3 linked regions of the Homo sapiens genome follow. The protein of the gene in region 1 purifies or fractionates together with the protein of each later gene. This does not show direct contact. Each region holds a gene or a part of one and is shown in the gene's direction. Other genes may lie near its edges. The genes, in order: SLC47A2, TMEM131L and VPS13A.

Region 1 (3,654 bases):
CCTGCGGCCTTCGGCCCTGTTTGTGTCCCTGGGTACTTGAGATTAGGGAGTGGTGATGACTCTTAATGAGCATGCTGCCTTCAAGCATCTGTTTAACAAAGCACATCTTGCACCGCCCTTAATCCATTTAACCCTCCCAGACGGGGCGGCCAGGCAGAGGCGCTCCTCACCTCCCAGATGGGGCGACTGGGCAGAGGCACTCCTCACTTCCCAGACGGGGCGGCCAGGCAGAGGGGCTCCTCACATCCCAGATGATGGGCGGCCAGGCAGAGACGCTCCTCACTTCCTAGACGTGGTGGCAGCCAGGCAGAGGCGCGCCTCACTTCCCAGATGGGGTGGCCAGGCACAGGGGCTCCTCACATCCCAGACGATGGGCAGCCAAGCAGAGACGCTGCTCACTTCCTAGATGGGGTGGCGGGCGGGCAGAGGCTGTAATCTTAGCACTTTGGGAGGCCAAGGCAGGCAGCTGGGAGATGGAGGTTGTAGCAAGCCGAGATCACGCCACTGCACTCCAGCCTGGGCAACATTGAGCATTGAGTGAGCGAGACTCCGTCTGCAATCCCAGCACCTCAGGAGGCCGAGGCGGGCACTTCACCCGAGGCTAGGAGCTGGAGGCCAGCCCGGTCAACACGGCGAAACCCCATCTCCACCAAAAATACAAAAACCAGTCAGGAGTGGCAGCGCGTGCCTGGAATCCCAGGCACTCGGCAGGCCGGGGCAGGAGAATCACCGGAGCCTGAGGCAGGGAGGTTGCAGTGAACCGAGATCATGGCAGTACAGTCCAGGCTCCGCAAGAGAGGGAGACCGTAGAAAGAGGGAGATGGAGAGCGAGAGCAAGAGCGGGAGGGAGAGGGAGAGGGAGAGGGCGAAAAGTAGTTTTTTTAATAGATGCATGTTTTAGTCTTCTGCTGTTTATTTCAATGATTTCACACTAATCTTTTATCTATTTATTTTTTAACTTTTAATTTTTTTTTTTTTTTTGTAGAAAGAGTCTTGCTATATTGCCCAAGCTGGTCTCTAACTCCTGGCCTCAAGCAGTCCTCCTGCCTTGGCCTCCCAAAGTGCTGGGATTACAGGTGTGAGCCACCATGCCTGGCCCACACTAATCTTTTACATTCTTATCCTTTTACTTCATTTAGGTATAGTTTGTTCTTCTTTACTAGCTTCTTAGGGTAGAATAGTAGGTCATTGATTCGAGACCTTTCTCCCTTTCCAATATAGGCATTTGAAGCTGTACATTTCCCTCTAAGCATTGCCTTAGTTGCATCTAATAAATTTTGATGTTCATCAAAATTTTCAAGTTTGAAATATTTTTAAATTTCTCATGTGATTTATTCTTTGACTTATGGTTTAGAAGTGCATTTAATTTCCAAATATTTGGGGTTTTATTTCTGGCAGGCATCTCTAATTTAATTCTGTTGTGGCCAGAGAACATACTTTGTATGAATTCAGTCTTTCAAAATTTGCCAGGCATGATGGAATGTGCCTGTAGTCCCAGGTACTCAGGAGACTGAGATGAGAGCACTACTTGAGCCTAGGAGTTCAAGACCAGCCAGGGTAACATAGCAAGACTCCATCTCTTAAAAAAGATTGTTTTAAGTTTAGTTTATTGAGATTTGTTTTGTGGCCTACCGCAGGTCTATCCTGGAGAATGCTGCATGTGAGACCCAAGGAATGTCATTGTGTTGGTTAAGTAACTTGCTTAGACTGATTCTGTGACTCCTGTCTCCTCTACAATGTACAGCTGCTGATGTCTCTTGCTCAGTTTTTTCCCCCTTGTTCTTATTTTTTTAAGTCTAGCTTTCTAGTTTAAAATGTTCTTTCTAGGATTAAAAATGTCTGCAGAGCTTAGTGTTCAGCCAATTACTGGTCAGAGACTGTGTTCAACACCTCTGATAGCTAGCAAAGCTTCCATTCTCTGCTGACAGATCCATGTGTGGGCTAGAGACGTATTCAGAGTTCCAGCTGTTTTCAAGTGAGTCCTGGCTTTTACTTTCTTCTGGGTACTACGGGTCTCTTCAGCCCATGTGGACAGGCTCCATTGTCCAGGAACATGTGGGAGGCTTGGTCTCTGCTACACCATATGCACAGCCTCTGGTCAGCTTGGGATATGTAGAGAACTTACCAGTACCTCCCCATTCCCTTGGCTGTTTTACCTCATCAAACTCCCTCTTAAATCCCTGCCTAGTCCACTGGTCGATGGCTTCTCCCAAACAGGCCCACAACCTCAGGCTAGCAAAGCCACTGGCCCTTCCTGCCACTGAAATTGCCACTTTAATTCACAATACTCTAAATCAGAGTTTCTCAACCTCAGCACTACTGGCACTTTAGACCAGATAACTCTTTGTTTGGTGGGGGGAGGGCGGTCCCCTGGGCATTGTAGGATGTTTAGCAGCATCCTTGGTCTCTACCCACTAGATGCTGTAACACTTTCCCCCACCACACCCCCACAGTTGTCACAACAAAAACATCCCAGAATTTGTCATCCCCATTTGAGAAACACTGGTCCAGGGTACATCAATCATAATTTGGGAGAAGTCTTTAGCCAAAAAAGATCATGCCATGACATATAATAACCAGAAATATACATACCATATTACAAAGTTCAAGAGGCATACATCTCCTAACCCCAGTGCATTACCTCTTTGTTCAAATGTGTACAAACCACAAAATACTCCCCACCTCTCACAGGAACAAAATAAAAATAACCAAATATCTATTGGCCAATAATCCTGACCAAGGATGAGCTGTGCCTGTAGTTCAGAAGATCTGGAATCACGTTGGGAAAATGAGACTAATGAAATAAACAGTACTTTTTCCAGAGCAATTCTCATCTTTGAGATGAGACATAATCACAGACAGCAGTGGGTGAGGGCTGCTTGTCTCATATGGAATAAGCTAACAACCACTGTTTGCCATGCATGGTAGGCAAAATAATGGCCCCCAAGTTTCAACGTCCACATCATAATCCCCAGAACCTGTGAGTGTTTCAAGGCAAATGGGACTTTGCAGGTGTGATTAAGAATCTGGAGATAGGGGGATTATCCTGGGTCATCCAAGTGGGCCCAATGTAAATACAAGGGTCCTTAGAAGAGGGAGGCAGGAGAGTCAGAGGAGATGTGAGGCTGGAAGCAGAGGTTAGAGTGATGTGGGGCCACCAGCCAATGAATACAGAAGGAATTCTAGAAGCTAGAAAAAGCAGAGACACATTCTCAACTAGGGCCTTCAGAAGGAACAAGCTCTTGATTTTGGCACAGTGAGACCCAATTCAAACTTCTAACCTCCAGAACTGTAAAATAAAATAATAAATTTGTGTGTGTGTGTGTGTGTGTGTGTGTGTGTGTGTGACCAAGTCTCGCTCTGTCGCCCAGGCTAGAGTGCAGTGGTGCATCCTAGGTTCAAGCAATTCTCGTGCCTTAGCCTCCCAAGTAGCTGGGATTACAGTGCCACCTTGCCTGGCTAATTTTTGTATTTTTAGAGATGGGGTTTCACCATTTTAGCCAGGCTGGTCTTGAACTCCTGACCTCAAGTGATCTGCCCTCCTCAGCCTCCTAAAGTGCTGGGATTACAGGCATGAGCCACCATGCCCGGCCCAAATTTATGTTATTTTAAGCCACAATATTTGCAGTAATTTGCTACAGTAGCCACAGGAAA
Region 2 (3,654 bases), on another chromosome or scaffold:
AAATCCTCAACTGAATTTTAAATGTTCTGTATAAGGACATTTCTAATTTAAAAGAAAGTTGGAGTCCTCTGAGGGGAATGTGGTCTAGGCAGCTGCACACATGCATTCTTGGTGCATTTAGTCCAACCCGTTTGTACCGTTTCCCCTGGCAGTGGTGCACACGCCTGAAGTGGACTTATGTCTGCAGGGTGGACACTGTGCCCTGTCTCCTCCACCTGGCGTGTGAGTATGCCCCCTGGTAATGCAGTTCACCCAGATCTTCAAATCAAACCATGGCATACCTTGTCTGTGGATGTATTATGATGGGGTGATTGGGTGTCTTATTCTGTTTCTCTCCCAGACACTCTCTGGGGTCTAGAATACAAAACATTTGTGAAAAGGTGAATTATGGAGTGAGTCCTGTTGGACATTTCCCCTGTTACGTGAGTCTTTTAGGCTTGAGCACAGTCTTTGACATAGGATGACTTTGCACACACTTGAAATTAGAGTTGAGGGAATCCTCCCTCCAGAAGTGCTTCTTCTGTGATCGCTTGTGCCCACAAGAGATATGTGCCTGCAAGATGCAATGCCCGTGGCAGTGTGGTAGATGGATGGGAGGGACCTTCTATATCTTAATACTTTAAAGCAGTTGAAATATAAAGGCATGGATGAGAAATGTAGTGTCAGAGTAGGTCAGAGGATTTGAATTCTTCTTCAGGATCCTCCTGTCTAGTACTTGACATTCAATGCCAATAGCTGAGCCAAGATGAGCAGGTAATAACACTTTAATAAGCGTGAGTAAATTTAATATGGGAGTCTGGAAACATAGAGTTTGCCTGTATCATTGTAGATGGTAAACCTGCCCAGAATCTTTCCTTCCTGTACAGATTACTAGTATGCTTATAATGTTTTAAATGGCAACAAATCTTTCACTGCCAGAATTTAAAAATACTGTTTGGCTGGATCAGCAGCATGTTAAGTGGTACCAGAGTGATTGTTGATCAGATCAAGTAAGAGCTGAGGAAAGAACTTTTGCTTTCCACCATGTTCAGACCAGCAAATTCAGAGGTGCTAATTCACAGTCCTCTACGTGTCTGCAGAAGTTATATGTTAGCAGGAGATTCCTCCCAGGGAAGTTTGTACATGGACATGCATTTTGTTCTGACTGTTTTATGTTCACAGCACTGTCCTGGGAAAATATCCGAGATGTTAAAAAGTGAATAAATTGCCTGCTATCCATGTACAATTTAAAATTGTTCAAGAATTTTAAATATTAAAAATAAGAAAGGACTGAAAAATCTAGGGAAAGATAATTATAGTCTGAAGGGAGGGTTTGGAGTTTTTTTAGTAATATTAAGGGTTTGGGGCTCTGTTGAATTTCAGAGGAAAGCATTGCAATAACTTGGCAAATGATAAACGCGTATAATTGACAGGTAAGTCACAAGTGCAAAGAATGCTTGAGAATGAGAAAAGCATATATATAAGAACCTTTAAGTTTTTACTTCCAGCTTTGAGCATTAGTTCTTTGCTAGCTTTGAAAAGTATTTTACTTTGTGAAATGTGTGCTGTTTCCATTGTAAGATCTTTTCTAGAATCTGAAGAAAACAGCTTGGTCTTTGAGCTGGACTCAACCTGCCTGATAGCTGAGAATCCTAAGTGCCAGTCACGTTGTCTCCTGTGTGACTGGCAGTTAGGATTCCAGCAGAATGGGAACTCACTCAGTGTGTTTGCCACATTTTAGCCATTTCTCCCAAAGTATACAAATGGTCTGTAGAAACCATTCTAGTCATAAGATTGCCTTTAAAGGGAAAAAGGGAAAGGTGGGGACAGTCCCGCCTCTTAAGAATACCTTAAGTGATTTTCCTAACTATCAGAACTCCTGGAGGCACCTGAATAATCTGCCTTCTCCTATTCTGAGGCTTCCCCCCACCCCCGGGTGTAGCTTATTGTGTGAGAAGAAAATGTTCTAGGGTATGTATGAATGGCTTTGACTACATACTTGCCATCAAGAAACATAATATTTTGTAAGTAATAGAAAATGTGTCATATTTGGGAGGCCGTGATGGGCAGATCACTTGAGCCCAGGAGTTCCAGGCCAGCCTGGGCAACCTGGTGAAACTCCATCTCTACCCAAAGAAGTATATGTATATGTATAGTAGCCAAATGTAGCCAGGCATGGTGGTACATGAGCATGGGCCTGTGGTCCCAGCTACTTGGGAGGCTGAGGTGGGAGAATCACTTGAACCCAGGAGGTCAAGGCTGCAGTGAGCTGTGATTGTGCCACCGCACTCCAGCCTGGGCAATGAGTGAGACCCTGTCTCAAAAATAAAAGCAAAAACAAAAAATGAAAAAAAAAATGTGTCCCTTTTCTACTCCATTTCCCCTGCCTGCTTCGGAGAGGCCTGTAGTAAATAATTAATTAAAATTCTCAATAGAAATAAAGTCTGCTGACATTCTTTAGGGCTCTGTTTTTCTACACTTGTTTTTTGGCATCAACTTGTCAAACAACTATCAAACAGTTAAACTTGTCAAACATTCGTTATACGTTCCAGAACCTCTTGGTCATCTGACAAGAGTGGGGCTTTATGTGTAATGTAAATGATCTTGTGAATATAGCTCTTTTTAAATGTTTGTAACCATTTTCACTGTCTGATCAAAATAATGTAGATTAGAGTTATGGCTAAAGACAAGCTATGGTTGGCCGCAGCACTACCAAGGAGAAATAGTGAGCAAATTATTTCACGGGTTTCTACCTGTAATAATGTAAAGGTATAATTAAATTTGATAATAGCTCAAGCCTTGAGCTTAACAGTACCTGAAAGTTTTCACTGAATTACATTCCTCACCTTTCTGAAATTATTGGTATTTGCAGAAATTCCAAAAATGTTCCTATTTACTTACAGATACTATTAACTTGAAATGAAGATTTAATGGTTTATTCAAAACAGACCACGTGATTGTGATTAGATTTGAGACAGTACAACTTTAAGCAGGTTACTGAGGAGATCACTTGTGTCTTGTTCTTCCATTTGTTTCTGTTTTTTAACCACTTTTAAAAGGAATTACTGACCTATAAAGCTGTACATACTTAATGTATGCATCTTGATGAGTTTGGGAATAAGTGTACATCGTGAAACCATTACCACCGTGAAGGGCATTAACATGTGCACCTCCCAACGTCTTCTCCTGCCCCCTTTATTATTATTAGTGTTCTTTCCATTTGTTTTTGATTTTTAACTGTGGTACACTCTTACTCAGTGAGGTCATGGGGAAGTTGCACACTTAATAGGATGACTTGGTGTATTAGGCTGTTTTTCACTGCCATAAAGAAATACCAGAGACTGGATAATTTATAAAGAGGTTTAATTGGCTCACAGTTCTGTGGGCTGTACAGGCTTCTGCTTCTGGGGAGACCTTAGGAAACACAGTTATGGTGGAGGGGTAAAGGGGAAGCAAGCACGTCTTGCATGGTGGGAGCAGGAGGAAGAGAGAGTGAAGGGGGAAGTGCTACACACTTTTAAACAACTAAATCTCGTGAGAACTCTCTCACTATCATGAGAACAGCCAGGGAGAAGTCAGCCCCCATGATCCAGTCACCTCCCACCAGGCCCCTCCTCCAACATTGAGGATTACAATTTGACATGAGATTTGGGTGGGGACACAGAACCAAACCAT
Region 3 (3,654 bases), on another chromosome or scaffold:
AAGAAAGTAGTTCTTCATTGTCATCTATTATAGGTTTATTTTACTTTTAGAATTACCATTTGCTTTTTAAAAAAATTTTTTTGAGACTAGGTTTCTCTCTGTTGCTCAGACTGGAGTGCAATGATGCGATCATAGCTCACTGTAGTCTCAAACTTCTAGGCTCAAGTGATCCTTCCACCTCAGCCCCCCGAGTAGCTGGGACTACAGGTGCATGCCATGCCTGGATAATATTTTTTAATTTTTAATTTTGTAGGGACAGGGACTCACTATGGCTTGTCTTGAACTCTTGGGCTCAAGTGATCCTCCCGCTTCGGCCTCCCAAAGTGCTGGAATTACAGGCATGAGCCAGTACACCCAGCCGTTTACACTTTTCTGATACATGTCTCTTTTGGAGGAAAAAGTTAACATATTTATGGTTTTAAATGTGTATTTCCATATTGAATAACAAATTATCATAGTGGTTAAGAATTTGTACTTTGCTGTCAGGTAGATTTGAAATTGCATCCTAGCTCTGTCATTTGCTAGCTGTATGTTCTTAAGCAGGCTTTATTGCTTTTCTAAATCTTTTGCTGTGGTCTGTAAAATGAGAATAATAATAAAATTTGCTTGGTTAAGACATGGGGGAAATCAAATTAGATTGTGTATGTAAAGGATTTGGTACAGTGCCTCCCAGACACAGGGTTGCCATTTATTTATCACTCTAGCACTACCACCACCATTGTTATTTTGTGGAATATTATTTAACTTGTAAAGAATCAAGAACTCCTTACTTTTGCTTTAATTAATTTAAAATCATGAGATGAAGAGATTCCTATATTATAATAATAGGAAAAGAATAGGATAGAGATGCTGGAAAAACTGGTGAGATATTCAGATGTACTGTCAATTTATATTTCTGTTCTCATAGAACTTTTAATTGGATGCTGTTAGTGATCACATTCTGTCTGCCAGTTTCCAAAGGGTGTGATCAGTTTTTAGAAAGACAATTGAGCCATGGTGTGGGGAAGGGACTAGAGGGGACAAGAGCGGTTAGGGGACTCTTAAACTGAGACGTCATATAGTGACATGAACTAAGATAATAGAAGGGAGGGTCGAGGGAAATGAGCAGTTTGGAGAGATACATATGACGTAATAATATAAACAGTGATTGGAAATGGGTGATGAGGGATTGTGGAGGTAGTAGGGATTACTTATTTTGGATTACCATCAGTTTTTGCCCACATTTTACGTTGTTTTGTAGTTTTCAAAATAAAAATCACGAGTGGTTAAGATTGTCTTTTTGTCGTTGTTTTACCAATTATAGTGTTTTATGTTTATAATTTCCAGGGGAGTTTCCCATTATGTTATTTAATCTTCACAGTTTGTCCTTTGAAGTAAGTCATTTAGACCATTTTACAAATACAGTAGCTCAAATCTCAGATTAAATACCGTGTAGAGGTTTACACAGTTGACAAAGTTAGAACTTGAATGTAAGTCTTCTGACTTGTTCTGATAGGTATTTCAAAAGCATTTTTTGCAGCATTTGGAATACATAAATAGAATTTTGAGGCATATTATTCTGCAACATTTTAAATTTTGTTTTGTTTTTTTTTTTTTTATTACAGGGAATTGAAAATTCGGTTTTTACTCTAAGTGAAGGACATTCAGCCCAGATTTGTACTGCACAGTTGGGTAAAGCCAGGCTACATTTAAAATTACTTGACTATCTCAATCACGATTGGAAAAGTGAATATCACATAAAGCCTAATCAGCAAGACATTAGTTTTGTCAGTTTTACTTGTGTTACAGAAATGGAAAAGACTGATTTAGATATTGCTGTCCATATGACTTACAATACTGGTCAGACAGTTGTGGCATTTCATAGTCCTTATTGGATGGTCAATAAAACTGGCCGCATGTTACAGTACAAAGCAGACGGAATTCATCGAAAGCATCCACCTAATTATAAAAAGCCAGTTCTCTTTTCTTTTCAGCCAAATCACTTTTTTAATAACAATAAGGTATGCGATGTTTATTCTGTTTTTCCCTTGTCTTTAGCTACTTGTCACTTTTTAGTTTTTAAAGTTCTGAGTAATAAATATTATGAAACTTGGATAGAAATAACTTGTTAAATATTTGAGGCCAAAAAGATTAGAATTTAATATTATAAAGGTTTAGTGCATTAACAATATAATATTTTGTTTATGCTAAAAAGTAATTTATCAGTTTAAGCAGGAATTTTTAAAGGTACCTAAATTGTGATGTATTTGGAATATTTTTTTCCTAGGTTCAACTTATGGTAACTGATAGTGAGTTGTCCAATCAGTTTTCAATTGATACTGTTGGTAGTCATGGAGCTGTTAAATGTAAAGGCCTGAAAATGGACTATCAAGTGAGTTCATTCTATGCTTATCAAGAAACTTTTATTTTAAATGTTTCTATTAACTACTTAATTAAATTTTATAAAGATGTTATACATAACAGTTTTTGAGCTGTTAATTTTTTTTTCTTAGGTTGGTGTCACTATAGACCTGAGCAGTTTTAACATTACTAGAATTGTGACATTTACCCCTTTTTATATGATTAAAAACAAAAGCAAATACCATATATCAGTGGCTGAAGAAGGAAATGATAAATGGCTCTCTCTTGATTTGGAGCAGGTGGGTAGATGAATTTCAAAAATATACCTCTTTGGATTCTATTTTCTCCTTGAAGTTAGATACCTAAAGTCACCATGTAATGTTTTAACTCTCCCCTTACTCCAATTTTGTTTTAGTTTCATGAATCTTTATTGAATATTTGTGCCCTGCTCTAGATAGATGGGAAGGTTCAATTTTTAATAATTAGGTAACTAGGAATGCCCAGCTTGTTAAGGGAGGTAGACGTTTAACAATTACTAACCACTTTGGTTAAATAAAGCAGCCAAAGACTAGATAAGATGTAAATGCACCAAAGAGAAGGAAATTACTTATTCTCTCTAGGAAGCTATTAGGAATGCTTTCAGAGAGTAGGGTAAGCCAGACTCTTCTTCAAGTTATTTGAGGAGAGTAGTAACTTAGAAGTGAAATTTTGATTTTGTGCCATCATTAAATCTTTGAATAAGAGTTTTCTGAATGACTGACAGAGGTTGATGGAATATTTTATTTTTGAAGAACTTTTATTCTAAAAGTTAGGATTAGAGAAGTTTTTGCTGTTTCTATTCATTATTCCTTTTTGCATACAAAACCGTCCTTGTTGGGATTATTCTTGAAGTATATTCTTTAGAATTTCTTTTAGAGCTGGTTTTGAAGGTAAATACCATCAGTGTCTCTAGAAAAATCTCTCTGGCGGGAGGGACAATGATCGGGATATAAACCCAGGCGTTCCAGGGGGCAACGGCAACCCCCTTTAGGTCCCCTCCCATTTATGGGAGCTCTGTTTTCACTGTATTAAATCTTGCAATTGCAAAAAAGAAAAAAAAGAAAGAAAAATCTCTCTGGCTGCCTTCAGTCTTCTCTTTGTCTTTGATGTTCTGCAGTCACACTGCTATATGTCTATATGTGGTTTACTTTTTATTTACCCTTCTTGAGGTGCTTTACCCCTAGATCTGTGGATTAATGTATTTCATGCTTTCTGTAAAATTTGCTACTATTGTTTCTTTAAATATTGCCTCTCCTCCATTCTTCCGTTTTTTTC

What was found.
Region 2: the proteins of SLC47A2 (region 1) and TMEM131L purify together in Homo sapiens (affinity purification with mass spectrometry; one large-scale study listed by BioGRID and IntAct). This does not show direct contact.
Region 3: the proteins of SLC47A2 (region 1) and VPS13A purify together in Homo sapiens (affinity purification with mass spectrometry; one large-scale study listed by BioGRID and IntAct). This does not show direct contact.

What each region holds. Positions count from the first base shown.
Region 1 is NC_000017.11:19,682,023-19,685,676, reverse strand, and holds part of SLC47A2 (multidrug and toxin extrusion protein 2), read left to right. Parts: intron 1-3,654. UniProt on the Homo sapiens protein: Multidrug efflux pump that functions as a H(+)/organic cation antiporter.
Region 2 is NC_000004.12:153,605,820-153,609,473, forward strand, and holds part of TMEM131L (transmembrane protein 131-like isoform 1 precursor), read left to right. Parts: intron 1-3,654.
Region 3 is NC_000009.12:77,337,912-77,341,565, forward strand, and holds part of VPS13A (intermembrane lipid transfer protein VPS13A), read left to right. Parts: intron 1-1,604; coding exon 1,605-2,000; intron 2,001-2,266; coding exon 2,267-2,371; intron 2,372-2,492; coding exon 2,493-2,639; intron 2,640-3,654. UniProt on the Homo sapiens protein: Mediates the transfer of lipids between membranes at organelle contact sites. Binds phospholipids. Required for the formation or stabilization of ER-mitochondria contact sites which enable transfer of lipids between the ER and mitochondria.